Linked DNA regions of Homo sapiens: all the other regions are linked to region 1. Evidence: fine-mapped expression QTL. A gene starts in region 1. Each other region holds a variant in brackets. All regions are shown on one strand. Distances are from middle to middle.

What was found. PIP is the estimated chance that this variant, and not a neighbour inherited with it, causes the effect. A credible set is the group of variants that fine-mapping cannot tell apart.
Region 2: its variant is the best candidate, but not a certain one, in a credible set for the expression of CYP2U1 in ovary (GTEx, PIP 0.79).
Region 3: its variant is the best candidate, but not a certain one, in a credible set for the expression of CYP2U1 in cerebellar hemisphere (GTEx, PIP 0.72).
Region 4: its variant is the best candidate, but not a certain one, in a credible set for the expression of CYP2U1 in whole blood (INTERVAL, PIP 0.56).

The regions. Positions count from the first base shown.
Region 1 is chr4:107,929,791-107,933,886 of GRCh38, reverse strand. It overlaps CYP2U1 (cytochrome P450 family 2 subfamily U member 1), which reads right to left and starts at 2,338. Exons shown (of 5, transcript NM_183075.3): 1 at 1,754-2,338. The coding sequence starts at 2,243. CYP2U1-AS1 (CYP2U1 and SGMS2 antisense RNA 1) reads left to right here and starts at 1,768. Exons shown (of 7, transcript NR_125929.1): 1 at 1,768-1,916. The region is part of intron 1 of LOC107986298 (a long non-coding RNA gene); the gene reads left to right. LOC124900751 (a long non-coding RNA gene) reads left to right here and starts at 2,302. Exons shown (of 2, transcript XR_007058221.1): 1 at 2,302-2,914; 2 at 3,984-4,096. RefSeq lists enhancers at 1,601-1,670, 1,731-1,800, 2,461-2,968 and a silencer at 2,011-2,600.
Region 2 is chr4:107,964,698-107,968,794 of GRCh38, reverse strand. All of the region lies in intron 1 of LOC107986298 (a long non-coding RNA gene), which reads left to right. Among named protein-coding and RNA genes, the nearest start is that of HADH, 23 kb to the left of the region's middle. The variant C/T (reference allele first, on the strand shown) is at 1,812.
Region 3 is chr4:107,952,440-107,956,439 of GRCh38, reverse strand. CYP2U1 (cytochrome P450 family 2 subfamily U member 1) reads right to left here. Exons shown (of 5, transcript NM_183075.3): 5 at 2,979-4,000. All of the region lies in intron 1 of LOC107986298 (a long non-coding RNA gene), which reads left to right. Among named protein-coding and RNA genes, the nearest start is that of CYP2U1-AS1, 22 kb to the right of the region's middle. The variant G/T (reference allele first, on the strand shown) is at 1,820.
Region 4 is chr4:107,958,645-107,962,741 of GRCh38, reverse strand. The region is part of intron 1 of LOC107986298 (a long non-coding RNA gene); the gene reads left to right. Among named protein-coding and RNA genes, the nearest start is that of CYP2U1-AS1, 29 kb to the right of the region's middle. The variant C/G (reference allele first, on the strand shown) is at 2,177.

The DNA of each region.
Region 1 (4,096 bases):
CCAACCGCAGATCAAAAAAACACATCTGTACTGAATGTGTAGACTTTTTTTCTTGTCATTCCTTAAACAATACTGTATAACAACTATTTACAAAGCATTTACATTGTAGTAGGTATTATAAATAATCTAGAGATGATTTAAAGTATCCAAGAGGATATGCATAGGCTATATGCAAATACTACACCATTTTATATCAGGGACTTGAGCATCCTAGGGTTTTGTTATTCGCAGGAGGTCCTGGAAGGAATCCCCTACAGATAAGGAGGGATGATTGTACATATGATGGAATATTAGTCTTCAAAAGAAAATTTTCACATATGCCACAACATGGATGAACACTAAGACATTATCTAAGGATTTTAAATGAGTAGGGATAAAGATCATAATACTTTAAATGCCCCACTGAAAAACAAATGTCACAGTTCACACCTCATCCACTACATGCCTTCGTAATACTGCTTCTACCTAAAATTCTCTTCTGAGCTCATGGGTGCCTGGAGAAAACCTACCTGCTTTTCTTTTCTTTTTTAAAAATTGTGGTGAAATACATATAAAATTTACCATCTTAACCATTTTTAAGTGCACACCTTAATGGCATTAGGTACTGTCACACTGTTGTGCAACCATTGCTACCATCCATCCATAGAACTTTTTTCATCTTGCAAAACTGAGACTTTCTGTCCCTATGAATTTCACTACGCTAGGAGGCACCTCATATAAGTGGATCATACAATATTTGTCTTTTCCGTTTAAAATCCTGATGCAAAACTCTGGCTTTATCAGATTCTGAAAAGCCTAGATCTTTCTTTGCCATGTTATAGGGGCAGGAAATAGCATTCATTTAATAGATACTTGAACTCCTACTATGTTTCAGACAGCAATGACTCTGTCCTCCTAGATGTCAGAACAGTGGTGAAGACTGACATCCAGGCCCAAGGTCATAAAGTTATGTAGCGTCAGTTTTGAAAAGTGTAGTGAAGGAAAAGTGCTTGGGCAAGGGACCTGGTTCTAACAAGGGAGGCTACCCTACTTGCAGAGGCTGTGAGAAAAGGCTTCCCCAAGGAAAAGGCATTTAACACCTGACTGATGCGTAGGAGTGACTCAGAAAAGAAGTCAGAGACCTAAGCCAGCCAGTAAGACAAAGGGGGACGGTAGAGACAGGTTAGATTGGACATTTTATTGCAGCAGATAACACGTTTTCCAACCCCCAAAAATGTCCAATTTAGACTCCCATACGCAGGAATCAGAGGCTATGAACCAAAGCCGGAGATTTGGTAATAGGCTTCTTCTGTGTTTTCTGGACTTTTTATCTTATTGGAAATTATCTTCTTAAATTCTTACATTCGAAACCCACAAGGTAAAAAGAATATCCTTCCCTCTTTCTAACATGGGGGCCAAAGTTTCTCTCCGAGGTCACAGCTGGTGGAAGGGAAGGCTACTTTTGGAAAGATGGAACCTGGCTTGCCACCTTGTCCTTCCGCCATCCCTATTACTCTCCCTCAATCTCCGGATGACTTTTCTACTTATGATCTTGGAGTATGAGCAAGTCACGCGTCCGTCACTACTTGATGGGATCTTAAAGGCATCAGAAAGGAGAAGCGCCGCCACCACCATCACCTGTTAGTTCAGGATGCAGGTGTGAGGCAGCCTGGGGGCGCGGGCGGCCGGAAGGGGCACAGGAACTGCAGCCCCCACGCACCTGGAGACTCATCCGCGGCATCCGCGTACCCACAGCCCACGACCTCCCGCTCACCCTTCTCCTTGGTCACGATGGAGATGAGCGGCACCCGCGGGCGGTCGCTGAAGACCTCGGCCTGCTGCACCAGCGCCTCGCGCACGCTGTGGAAGTCGCTGAGGACCACCACCAGGTAGTGGCCGATAAAGAAGCTGAAGATGCTGCCGTACACGCGGGCTAGGTGAGCCAGGAGCACCTGCGGGCCTATGACCGAGGGATCAATCCCTGCGGCCCTGGTCCTGCTGCTCAGCCAGCTCCGCCGCCGGAGGAAGGGAGGCAGCAGCACGTGACCGAAGTTGCCCACCAGAGGCCAGGGCGTGGGCCCGGGCGGGATGCCCCGCGCCCGGCGCCTCCGCAGCCAGCTCCAGCCCAGCAGCGCTACGAGGCCGCATAGCAGCAGCGCGCCCCCGCTGGGGTCCAGCCGCAGCAGCCCCAGAGGCGCACGCAGGAGGCGCGCGGGCCAGGGCGGGTCCTCGGCCGGCGGCTGCGACGGCCCCGGAGACGACATGGTCCGGGCGCCGGCGGCCTCGGGTTCCCCTTGCTGCCTGGAGGAGACGCGCACGCAGCTGCCTGACCCGCGGCGCCAGTGTCCTGCTCTGCTCTGGAAGGTCGGGGGCGGGCAGGGGGTGTAGGAACGCCCCCGGATTGGCTGCGCCGCGCGCATTCTCCCCGCCGCCGCCACTCAGCGACGCCTGGGCGGAACCTGGAGGCGCGCCGGCTGCCTGGCGGAGGGGGTTGGCGGGCTAGCAGGCGGGGGACCTGAAGTTTGCCCCGAAGTCCGGTTACGACCCTTTGCAGGGTCGGGCTTGGCGGTGACTGTCCCTGAAACTGGGATGCTGGCAACACAACCTTGCGCTCTGATTGGCTGTTGGTTTCCCTTGTGTCATTCGTTTGTCATTATCACTCGTTTGTCAGTTGACAAACACAAACGCATGGTTATGAAGTGCATAAACCGTGTTAGGATCTGTACTGAGTGTGGGAAACTGGTGAACAGGCCCGTGAGATGGGTCGGCCTTAGCACCTGTGCCCTGAGCTGGGAGAATGGGGTCAACGCCCTATTCCTGCATGCTTCGGTGTAGTAGTGAAAAGACGGGGTTCCTTATCTAAACTGGGATTCGCAGCACCCTTTCCTCCACGCAGAGACAGCAGGATGCTGGGAAGCCGTGGAATGCAGAATCTGTGGGTGTCGGCTTGGCAGCCAACTCTGCGGAAGGGATGATGGCGGGAGTGGGGGGAGCGAGGGGCGGGCAGCGAGGCACGAGGAGTCACGTTCTGAGAGCTTGCCCTGGGCTAGAAAACTTATGCGGAGAGCGAAAGCTGTGTCCATTCCTGCGTGTGGCCTGGGTGCATTAGAAAATGTACTTAAATCCAGAAATAGCGAAACCAGAATTTGCTTGGTGGATTTAAGTAGCTAGAAATATGAAAAGAAGATAACCGGTTGAGGGAGGGGTGGCAATATTATTATTGGTGTTAGACAACACTTGAAAGGCTGAGGTTGAAATATTAGATATGAATTGTATAATACTTTAAAAACAAAGTATTACTTTATTTTATCTTCTCAGATAATGGCTTTCCTGATAAGGGCTTCCCTTTCAGTCTTGTTTAGGCCAAATCCTGTAGTTTCTGTTCAAGTTGGATTGAGCATAGAATTGTCTGTACTGGGCCATTTTTCTAGCCGTTTCATTTTTCTCCATACATTAAAAGTTTGAACACCACGCTGTACCTATAAAAATGTGATCAAAGAAAGCATAGTGAGTCCTCAAATAAATACATGATCCATTTTATTTTTCTATAAACAAGTGATGCCAGTAGGATATGTTAAATTTCAAGTCCACTCTGTTCTCATATTCTTTTTGACATGCTTTTCATGTTATTTTAAGCTTATGCACCCCAAACAAAAAAAAAAAACCTCCACACCTCTCATCTTCTATAATTAACCACTACTTGTGAGATTACTTTTCTCATTTTTTTTGAATTTTTGAATTAAGAGAAGTTTTTAAAAATTTAAACTACTTGTTTGCAGATACGATCTTCAACATGACATTCTGGATGTCATCTGATTCTAGGGCTTTGCTCTCTGAAACAGTAGCCACTATATACATCATCCCATACAAGCAATTTAAATTCATAAATGATTTTAAAATAGTTGAAGCTGTGACTAATTTAACAACTCCAACAGCCACCCTTTTATATTGTACAGGATGTAACTGCACGTGTAGTGTTTTCCTAAATCTCTCATTTTCACTAGGTTAATAGCTGTGCGGGGCAGATAGGAAATCTGGGCTGAATTCAGCCTCTCCTCACCACTATATGTTGAAGTCCTAACCCCCAGTGCCTCAGAATAAGACTGTATTTGGAGAA
Region 2 (4,097 bases), 35 kb before region 1:
CACTTTGGAGGCTGAGGCAGGTGGATCACTTGAGGCCAGGAGTTCGAGACCAGTCTGGCCAACAGGGTGAAACCTTGTCTCTACTAAAAATATAAAAATTAGCTGGGGGTGGTGGCACGTGCCTGTAATCCCAGTTACTCGGGAGGCTGAGGCACAAGAATTGCTTGAACCTAGGAGGTGGAGGTTGCAGTGAATCGAGTTTGAGCCACTGCACTCCAGCCTGGGTGACAGAGAGAGACTGTCTCAAAAAAAAAATTATATCTCAAAAATTAACTCAAGATGGATTAAAGACTTAAATGTAAAACCCAAAACTATAAAAACTCTAGAAGATAACCTAGGCAATACCATTCAGGACATAGGCACTGGCAAAGATTTCATGATAAACATACCAAAAGCAATTGCAACAAAAGCAAAAATTGACAAATGGGATCTAATTAAACTAAAGAGGTTCTATACAGCAAAAGAGACTATCAACAGAGTAAACAGACAACCCACAGAATGGGAGAAAAATTTTGCAAACTACATTCAACAAAGGTCTGATATCAAAAGTCTATAAGGAACTTAAACAAATTTACAAGAAAAAACAAACAATCTCATTAAAAAGTGGGCAAAGGATATGAACAGACACTTCTCAAAAGAAGACATACATGTGGCCAACAATTATATAAAAAAGCTCAGTATCGCTAATCATTAGAGAAATGCAAATCAAAACCACAGTGAGAAACCATTTCACACCAGTAAGATTGGCTGTTAAGAAAATAAAAAAATAACAGATGCTAGTGAGGTTGTGGAGAAAAAGGAATGCTTATACATTGTTGATGGGAGTGTAAATTAGTTCAACCATTGTGGAAGACAGTGTGGTGATTCCTCAGAGACCTAAAGACAGAACTACTTTTTGAGCCAGCAATCTATTACTGGATATATACCCAAAGGAATATAAATCATTATATTATAAAGACACATGCACACATGTTCATTGCAGCACTATTCACAATAGCAAAAACATGGAGTCAATCTAAATGCCCATCAATGATAGACTGGGTAAAGAAAATGTGGTACATATACAACATGGAATACTATGCAGCCATAAAAAAGAATGAGATCATATCCTTCACAGGGATGTGGATGGAGCTGGAGGCCATTATCCTTAGCAAACTAATGCAGGAACAGAAAACCAAATACCTCATGCTCTCACTTATAAGTGGGAGCTAAATGATAAGAACACATGGACACATAGAGGGGAACAACACACACTGGGGCCTATCTCAAGGTGGAGGGTGGGAGGAGGGAGAGGATCAGGAAAAATCACTAATGGGTACTAGGTTTAATACCTGGGTGATGAAATAATCTGTACAATAAACCCCCATAGAAGTGACTATGTTGTCTGGGGTATATACCCTGGGGTTCATGGTCGTGCACCAGGAAAATGTTAAGACATGGACAAACAAGAGGAGTTTAGGAGTGGAGGTTTAATAGGCAGAAGAGAAGAGAAAGAGAAACAGCTTTCTCTATAGAGAGAGTGGGGTCCCTGAATGGAAAAGACCTGCAGGTGGCATTGAATTTTATAGTCAGGTTTGAGGAGGCAGTGTCTGATTTACAAAGGGTTCACAGATAGGTTCGATCAGGTATGACATTTACATAGCAGATGGGGAAAGGCCGGTTGTCTCACCCTAATCTTATTATGCAAATGGGCTTTCCAGTTGATCTGAGCCATCTTGTCTGCTTCTTACTGTACACATGGCTGGCAGAGAAGGGAAGATGAAGCTGCCATCTTAAACATGTCTAGCCCCTAGTTCCTGCCAGCATTCACC[C/T]ATGCAAGCTCCCAGCTTCCTCGTCTATGTCTGCCGCTTGACTTTACAGGCTGCTCTTTGTTAGACAATGATTTGGGGCTGCTTTTCATTAAAGAGAAAAGCCTTACCGAGGACTTCTGTACCCTCACTATCTGCCTAAGTGATTTCTTCTTAACTCCTGTATCACCATGACACAGTTATCCTATGTAACAAACCTGCACATGTACCCCTGAACTTAAAAGTTTAACACAATAATTTGTATCTTTTGCCTGTTTTTAAAATTAGGGTATTCTACTACTGAATTATAGCACTTACAGTTCACTAGAAGAAATACTATGCTATAGTATATGAAAATATTAAAGATACTATATATTATAGTATATATGGATTTATAAGCACTGACTTATAAGCACTTTATATATTAAGGATATTGAATTTTTGGCAAGGCTGATACAAACATTTTTTCATGATTTGCCAGCCGTTTTTTGGAATACAAGAGTTTTCTATTTTTATGTCATTAAGTGTATGCTGTTTTAGTTTTCTGATTGATTCTATTATTTTTTTAAGAGTTGGATTTTTTCTTTTTTTCTTTAAACAGCCTTATTGAAGAACATTGATGGATAAAAATTGTACATATTTAAGGTATACAACTTGATGTTTTGATGTATGTATACATTGTGAAATGGTCTTCACAATCAAACCAATTAACATATCTATCACCTCACCAAGTTACCATTTTCTTTTTCTTCTTTTATTATTATCTTTTTTTGTGGCAAAAACATTTAAGATCTACTTCTTAGAAAATTTCAAGTAAGGAATATTGTTAATCATAGCCACCAGGCTGTACATTAGATCTGTAGAACGTATTCATCCTGCATATTGAAACTTTTTATCCTTTGACCAGCATTACCGTTTCTCCCTCCCTACTGCCCCTGGCAACCACCATTCGCTTTATAATTCTATGAGTGCGACTATTTTAGGTTTCACACATCAATGGGATCAAGCAGTATTTGTTTTTCTGTGTCTGCCTTATTTCATTTAGCATAATATCCTCCAGGTTCATCCATGTTGTTGCAAATGGCAAAATTTCATTCTTTCCTGAGGCTGAATAATATTCCATTGTGTGTGTGTGTGTGTGTGTGTGTGTGTGTGTGTACACCACATTTTCTTTTATCCATTCATCCATCAGTGGATACTTACACTCTTTTCATATCTTAGCTGTTGTGAATAATGCTGCAGTGAACATGGGAGTGCAGATAAATCTTCAAGATCTTAATCTTGATTTCCATTTCTGTGGGTATATCCCAAAAGAGGGATTGCTAGATAATATGGTCGTTCTATTTTTTATTTTTTGAGGACCCTGTATACTGTTTTTGATAAAGGCTGTCCCAATATAAATTCTCATGAACACTGTACAAGGGTTCCCTTTTTCCTGCATCTTTGTCAACACTTTTAATCTCTTGTCTTTTTGATTAATAGCCATCCTGATAGTTATGAGGTGATGTTTCATTGGGTTTTCATCTGCATTTCCCTGATGATTAGTGATGTTGAGCACCATTACATATACCTGTTGGCCATTTGTATATCTTCTTTCTAGAAATGCCTATTTAGGTCCTTTGCCCATTTTATAATTGGATTATTTGCTTTTGCTATTGACTCGTGTGAGTTCCTTATATATTTTGGATATTAACTCCTTGTAAGATATATGGTTTACAAATATTTTCTCCCATTCCATAGGTTGTTATTTAACTCTGTGATTTTTTTTTCTTTGCTGGGCAGCAGTTTTTTAATTTGATGTGATTCTACTTGTCTATTTTTGCTTTTGTTGCCTGTACTCTTGCTATCTTATTCAAACATATTATTGCCAAGACAAATGTCAGAAAGCTTTTTCCCTATGCTTTCTTCTAGTAGTTTTACGGTTCTGAGTCTTATGTTTAAGTTTTTAATCCATTTTGAGTTTATTTTTGTTTATGGTGTCAGATGAGGGTCTAATTTCATTCTTTTGCCTGTGAATATCCAGTTTTCCCAACATTAGTTATTGAAGAGACTATCCTTTCACCATTGTGTGCTCTTGGCACTCTAGTGAAGATTGACTGTGAATGCATGGATTTATTTATGGGCTCTCTATTCTGTTCCGTTAATCTATATGTCTGTTTTTATGTCAGTACCATCGCACTTAGGTTACTGTAGCTTTGAAATATCTTTTGAAATCAGGAAGTGTGATGTCGCCAGCTTTATTATTCTTTCTCAAGATTGCTTTCAACCTGGGCAACATGTCAAATCTCCATCTCTACACACACACACAAA
Region 3 (4,000 bases), 23 kb before region 1:
TTTAGTATGTTGTGTTTAGGTTTTTATTTGTCCAAAGATATTTCTTGAATTTCCCTTTGATTTCTTCTTTGACCCAATCTTTATTAGAGTGTATTGTTTTGTTTTCCCATATTTGTGAATTTTTTCATTTTCTTACCGTTTTTGATTTCTAGTTTCATTCCATTGTGGTTAGAAAAGATGTTTGGTATGATTTCCATTTTTTTTACATTTGTTAAGACTTGTTTTGTTACTCAATGTATGATCTATCCTGGAGAATGTTTTGTGTACACATGAGAAGAATGTATATTCTTCTGTTGGATGGAAAGTTCTATAGTTGTCTGTTAGGTCCATCTGGTCCATAGTGTTGTTCAAGTCACCTGTTTTTATTTTAATTGATTTTCTGTGCAGATGTTGTATCCATTATTGAAAGCAGGGTGTTGAAGTCTCCTACTGTTATTGTATTACTGTCCATTTCTCTCTTTAGATAGATCAATATTTGCTTTTATATATCTAGGTACACTGATGTTGGATGTGTATATATTTATAATTGTATCTTCTTGTTCAGTTGGCCCTTTCATCATTATATAATGGTCTTTTTTGTCTCTAGTTACAGTTTTTTACTTAAAGTCTATTTCATCTGGCATGAGTATAGCCATCCTTGCTCTCTTTTAATTAACATATGCATGGAATATCTTTTTCCATTGCTTCACTTTCAGCCTATGTGTGTCCTTAAATCTGAAGTGAGTCTCTTGTAGACAACATACAGTTGAATCTTCTTTTTAAATCCATTCAGTTACTCTATGTCTTTTGACTGGGGAGGTTAAGTCTATGTACAGTTAAAGTAATTATCAATAGGTAAAGGCTTACTATTGCCAGTCTGATAACTGTTTCTGGTTATTTTGTTGCTCTGTATTCATTTCTCCCTCTCTTTCTGTCTTCCCTTGTGATTTGATTATGTTTTGGGCTTGCATAAAGCATCTTATAGTTACAACTGTCTATTTCAAGCTGATACTAACTTCAATCTCATACAAAAACGCCATTCTCCCCAACCTTTGTGTCCTTGAATTCAGTGTTTAATTATCTTTATAGTGTGTATCCATTAACAATTGTGTGTGTGTGTGTGTGTGTGTGTGTGTTTTAGACAAAGTCTTGCTCTGTCACCAGGCTGGAGTGCAGTGGCGTGATCTCAGCTCACTGCAACCTCCAACTCCCTTGGTTTAAGCGATTCTCCTGCCTCAGCCTCCCAAGTAGCTGGGATTACAGGCATGTGCCACCATGCCCAGCTAATTTTGGTATTTTTAGTAGAGATGGGGTTTCACCATGTTGGCCAGGATGGTCTTAATTTCCTGACCTCATGATCTGCCTGCCTCAGCCTCCCAAAGTGCTGGTATTACAGGTGTGAGCCACTGGGCCCAGCCATCTTTTAACTTTTATATTAGGGTAAAAAGTAATTTATGTACTATTATAGTGTTACATTATTCTATATTTCCCTGTATATTTTCTTTTACCAGTGAGATTTATGTTTTCATGTTGCTATTTAACATGTTTTCATTTTAATTTGAAGAATTTCCTTAAGTATTTCTTATAAGACAGGTCTAGTGGTAACAAACAGATTCCCTCAGTTTCATTTGTCTTGGGATGACTTTATCCTTTATTTTTAAAGGCTATTTTTGCCCAATGCAATATTCTTGTTTGGCAGTTTTTTTCTTTTAGAATTTTGAATACATCATCCTACTCTATCCTTGGCTGCAGGGATTTTGCTGAGCAATCCACTGAGAGTCTTATGGATAATTAGCCTTTTCCCTTAACAAAAACTGATTATTTGACCCTCATACAAAGG[G/T]AAGAACTGATAAGAATATGAAATATCTTAGCCAGGCATGGTGGCACACACCTGTAGTCCTAGGTACTTAGGAGGCTGAGGTGGGAGGATCACTTCAGCCTGCAGTGAGCCGTGATCATGCCACTGCACCCTAGCCTGGGCAACAGAGTGAGACCCTGTCTCAAAAAAAATAAATAAAATAATATAAAAGTATATCATTTCAATGATGATAATACCAAATTATTTACTAATGAACAAATACCCTACTTAAATGAATTTGGTTTCTAAAAACAGTGCAGCAAAACCGAAGTAGATTTGAGGGTGCCACATTATTTGGTGTTCCCCTTGTTTCACTACTGTTATTTCACCAGAACTCATACTCTGGTGGCACAAGCCACAGTCACTGAGGCAGCAGACAGAAAACAATGACAGGTTTGCCTGTATCATCACCTCTGTAGCCTAAAGGGTCAAATAATCACCTTCCATCAAACTCACTTAATTCTTCATTTGCCCAACATATTTACTGATGCCTGCTCTGCATAAGGCATCCACTCTTGGTAAGTTATCAGATATAGTCAGTCCCTGACATCCTCATGGAGTGGAGATGAGAGAGAGGATAGAAACAGAAGGTTTAAATAAACAAGGTAGTTGCAGTTAGTGATGAGGGCTCTGGAGGAAATTGGGTGATGAGATTAGGGAGTTCTCAGGAAAGGCCACTTTGGATGTCATGGTGGGTGACCTCTCTGAGGAGATGCTGTCTGAGCTGTGACTTCAGGAAGAAGAGTAGGCTGTGGAAAAAGCTGGCAGGGGGTCCCTCCACAGGCAAAATATGGTTCAAGTATGAAAAAGCTCTTTTTCCTGAGCTGGGAAGTGTGAGACCAGCACTCAATACTTGGCCACAGCAGGCTCATGTGGGCCCATCTCCTCTCAACTCAACTCATGCTGGGCTTCTACAGGGAATATAAGACACCTGGGTGGTGATGCAGTCCTCTAAGGAACTTCACTCCATGGGGAAAGTTTTAAAGAATTACCCTTGTTTCTAAGGACCATGCTTACATTCTATTGTGGACATCTGTCTTTGGAGGCCTATTTTCTTTTCTTTTTACATTAACTTGACATCTGGTAAAACAAAATTTTGCATAGCAATTAAATCAAAACAAAAAACAGACATGACACTTTCTCAGTTAAAATAGTTTAATAAAAGCAACAAAACTGTGCTAACGATGAGAATCAAAAATGAGATATTAGGTAGACTTATAAAACAAAGTATAGTTATTTTTTGATTTCAAATAAACCATGTGCAAAATTGTAAAATGCCAATGTGTCTGAGAAAAGCATTAACAGTCCTTTTAGCAATTTATATATAAAGATGTTTTTAAAGTGCCACAGCTTAAGGCATTATATTTTAAAGTTTAATAAACATCTAATTTCAACATCTCTCCAAGAACAGACTTCTTCTCAATAAGCTATAAACTATTTGGTTAGGAATATTGAAAATGCATGTATAATTTAAGGAGTAATATACTTGTTAATGCTGAGTTATTAGTGCAATTCAAAAGCATATGAATTCCATATCAAGAACAAACTCTCCCGCCCAAGGTACAGTGTAATCCACACTGTATCATCTCATCTAAAAATCTATACAGCAGCTACCCCATCCACTCAGTTCCTCTGCAGTTAGGCTATTAGCTTTTCTTTTTCAAAAAGCAAAAATTCCTAAGACACCTAAAGATTAGCCTGTATTTCATTTATCTATACGGAAAGTGCTTAGTAATATTTCTAAAAAGGAAAAGAGCAGTATGGTAGATAAAGAATGTAGAGTCAAAAATCAATCATTTTAAAATTTTTCTTCTTCCTATGATTATGTTTTGGTTAAGCAGATATTATTTTCATTTTTTGAGCTTGCAAAAGTCTGCCTAGGAATGTGCTAAATCAAAGGAAAAATCTAGCCTCATGTTCACAATTGCCCTGGAATGCCATTCCCAGACTGAGATCTAACTACACAGAGTATGGCTAACGGCAGAAGTCAGAGGTTAGGGAGATCTGGTGTCTCCATTTATCTGGAAAACAGAGCAAAGAAGGGTGATCAGTTATAGAAGGCCAAACAGAAGTGTTTTAAGTTCAGAATTTCATCTTTCGTTTAATTTTCAAAGTAACAGCCACTCTGGATCTTTTCTTGCCCTCTTCTCTATCAGTATGAAC
Region 4 (4,097 bases), 29 kb before region 1:
GTGTGCTGCACCTGTTAACTCATCATTTACATTAGGTGTATCTCCTAATGCTATCCCTCCCCCCTCCCCCTACCCCATGACAAGCCCCAGTGTGTGATGTTCCCCACCGTGTCCAAGTGTTCTCATTGTTCAATTCCCACCTATGAGTGAGAATATGCGGTGTTTGGTTTTCTGTCCTTGTGATAGTTTGTTCAGAATGATAGTTTCCAGCTTCATCCATGTCCCTGCAAAGGACATGAACTCATCCTTTTTTATGGCTGCATAGTATTCCATGTTGTATATGTGCCACATTTTCTTAATCCAGTCTATCATTGATGGACATTTGGGTTGGTTCCAAGTCTTTGCTATTGTGAATAGTGCTGCAATAAACATATGTGTTGATGTGTCTTTATAGCAGCATGATTTATAATCCTTTGGGTATATACCCAGTAATGGGATGGCTGGGTCAAATGATATTTCTAGTTCTAGATCCTTGAGGAATCGCCACACTGTCTTCCACAATGGTTGAACTAGTTTACAGTCCCACCAACAGTGTAAAAGTGTTCCTATTTCTCCACATCCTTTCCAGCACCTGTTGTTTCCTGACTTTTTAGTGATCGCCATTCTAACTGGTGTGAGATGGTATCTCACTGATTTGCATTTGGTTTTGATTTGCATTTGTCTGATGGCCAGTGATGATGAGCATTTTTTCATGTGTCTCATGGCTGCATAAATGTCTTCTTTTGAGAAGTGTCTGTTCATATCCTTCACCCACTTTTTGATGGGGTTGTTTGATTTTTTTCTTGTAAATTTGTTTAAGTTCTTTGTAGATTCTGGATATTAGCCCTTTGTCAGATGGGTAGATTGTAAAAATTTTCTCCCATTCTCTAGGTTGCCTGTTCACTCTGATGGTAGTTTCTTTTGCTGTGCAGAAGCTCTTTAGTTTAATTAGATCTCATTTGTCAATTTTGGCATTTGTTGCCATTGCTTTTGGTGTTTGAGTCATGAAGTCATTGCCCATGTCTATGTCCTGAATGGTATTGCCTAGGTTTTCTTCTAGGGTTTTTATGGTTTTAGGTCTAACATTTAAGTCTCTAATCCATCTTGCATTAATTTTTGTATAAGGTGTAAGGAAGGGATACAGTTTCAGCTTTCTACATATGGCTAGCCAGTTTTCCCAGCACCATTTATTAAATAAGGAATCCTTCCCCACTTCTTGTTTTTGTCAGGTTTGTCAAAGATCAGATGGTTGGAGATGTGTGGTATTATTTCTGAGGGCTCTGTTCTGTTCCATTGGTCTATATCTCTGTTTTGGTACCAATACCATGCTGTTTTGGTTACTGTAGCCTTGTAGTATAGTTTGAAGTCAGGTAGCATGATGCTTCCAGCTTTGTTCTTTTGGCTTAGGATTGTCTTGCCATTGTGGGCTGTTTTTTGGTTCCATATGAACTTTAAAGTAGTTTTTTCCAATTCTGTGAAGAAAGTCATTGGTAGCTGGATGGGGATGTCATTGAATCTATAAATTACCTTGGGCAGTATGGCCATTTTCACTATATTGATTCTTCCTATCCATGAGCATGGAACATTCTTCCATTTGTTTGTGTCGTCTTTTATTTCGTTGAGCAGTGGTTTGTAATTCTCCTTGAAGAGGTCCTTCACATCCCTTGTAAGTTGGATTCCTAGGTATTTTATTCTCTTTGAGGCAATTGTGAATGGGAGTTCACTCATGATTTGGCTCTCTGTTTGTCTGTTATTGGTGTATAAGAATGCTTGTGATTTTTGCACATTGATTTTGTATCCAGAGACTTTGCTAAAGGTGCTTATCAGCCTAAGGAGATTTTGGGCTGAGACTATGGGGTTTTCTAAATATACAATCATATAATCTGCAAACAGGGATGATTTGAGTTCCTCTTTTCCTAATTGAGTACCATTTATTTCTTTCTCCTGCCTGATTGCCCTGGCCAGAACTTCCAACACTATGTTGAATAGAAGTGGTGAGAGAGGGCATCCCTGTCTTGTGCCAAGAGAATGCTTCCAGTTTTTGCCCATTCAGTATGATATTGGCTGTGGGTTTGTCAGAAATAACTCTTATTATTTTGAGATGTGTCCCATCAATATCTAGTTTATTGAGAGTTTTTAGCATGAAGGGCTGTTGAATTTTGTTGAAGGCCTTTTCTGCATCTATTGAGACAATCAT[C/G]TGATTTTGGTCTTTGGTTCTGTTTATATGATGGATTACATTTCTTGATTTGTGTATATTGAAGCAGCCTTGCATCCCAGGGATGAAGCCAACTTGATCATGGTGGATAAGCTTTTTGATGTGCTGCTAGATTCGGTTTGCCAGTATTTTATTGAGGATTTTTGCCTCGATGTTCATCAGGGATATTGGTCTAAAATTCTCTTTTTTTGTTGTCTCTCTGCCAGGCTTTGGTATCAGTATGATGCTGGCCTCATAAAACGAGTTAGGGAGGATTCCCTCTTTTTCTATTGATTGGAATAGGTTCAGCAGGAATGGTAACAGCTCCTCTTTGTACCTCTGGTAGAATTTGGCTATGAATCCGCCTGGTCCTGGCCTTTTTTGATTGGTAGGCTATTAATTATTGCCTCAATTTCAGAACCTGTTATTGGTCTATTCAGGGATTCAACTTCTTCCTGGTTTAGTCTTGGGAGGGTGTATGTGTCCAGGAATTTATCCATTTCTTCTAGATTTTCTAGTTTATTTGTGTAGAGGTGTTTATAGTATTCTCTGATGGTAGTTTGTATTTCTGTGGAATCGGTGGTGATATCCCCTTTATCATTTTTTATTGCATCTATTTGATTCTTCTCTCTTTTCTTCTTTATTAGTCTTGCTAGCGTTCTATCTATTTTGTTGATCTTTTCAAAAAATCAGCTCCTGGATTCATCAATTTTTTGAAGGGATTTTTGTGCCTGTATCTCCTTCAGTTCTGGTCTGATCTGTTATTTCTTGCCTTCTGCTAGCTTTTGAATGTGTTTGCTCTTGCTTCGCTAGTTCTTTTAATTGTGATGTTAGGGTGTCAAGTTTAGATCTTTCCTGCTTTCTCTTGTGGGCATTTAGTGCTATAAATTTCCCTTTACACACTGCTTTAAATGTGTCCCAAAGATTCTGGTATGTTGTGTCTTTGTTCTCATTGGTTTCAAGGAACATCTTTATTTCTGCCTTCATTTTGTTATGTACCCAGTCGTCATTCAGGAGCAGGTTGTTCAGTTTCCATGTAGTTGAGCGGTTTTGAGTTAGTTTCTTAATCCTGAGTTCTAGTTTGATTGCACTGTGGTCTGAGAGACAGTTTGTTATAATTTCTGTTCTTTTACATTTGCTGAGGAGTGCTTTACTTCCAACTACGTGGTCAATTTTGGAATAAGTGCAATGTGGTACTGAGAAGAATGTATACTCTGTTGACTTGGGTTGGAGAGTTCTATAGATGTCTATTAGGTCCACTTGGTGCAGAGCTGAGTTCAATTCCTGGATATCCTTGTTAACTTCCTGTCTCGTTGATCTGTCTAATGTTGACAGTGGGGTGTTAAAGTCTCCCATTATTATTGTGTGGGAGTCTAAGTCTCTTTGTAGGTCTCTAAGGACTTGCTTTATGAAAATGGGTGCTCCTGCATTGGGTGCATATATATTTAGGATAGTTAGCTCTTCTTGTTGAATTGATCCCTTTACCATTACGTAATGGCCTTCTTTGTCTCTTTTGATCTTTGTTGGTTTAAAGTCTGTTTTATCAGAGACTAGGATTGGAATTGCTGCTTTTTTTTTTTTTCCATTTGCTTGGTAGATCTTCCTCCATCCCTTTATTTTGAGCCTATGTGTGTCTCCGCACGTGAGATGGGTCTCCTGAATACAGCACACTGATGGGTCTTGACTCTTTATCCAATTTGCCAGTCTGTGTCTTTTAATTGGGGCATTTAGCCCATTTACGTTAAAGGTTAATATTGTTATGTGTGAATTTGATCTTATCATTATGATGTTAGCTAGTTATTTTGCTCGTTAGTTGATGCAGTTTCTTCCTACCAGCGATGGTCTTTACAATTTGGCGTATTTTTGCAGTGGCTGGTACCTGTTATTCCTTTCCATGTTTAGTGCTTCCTTTAGGAGCACTTGT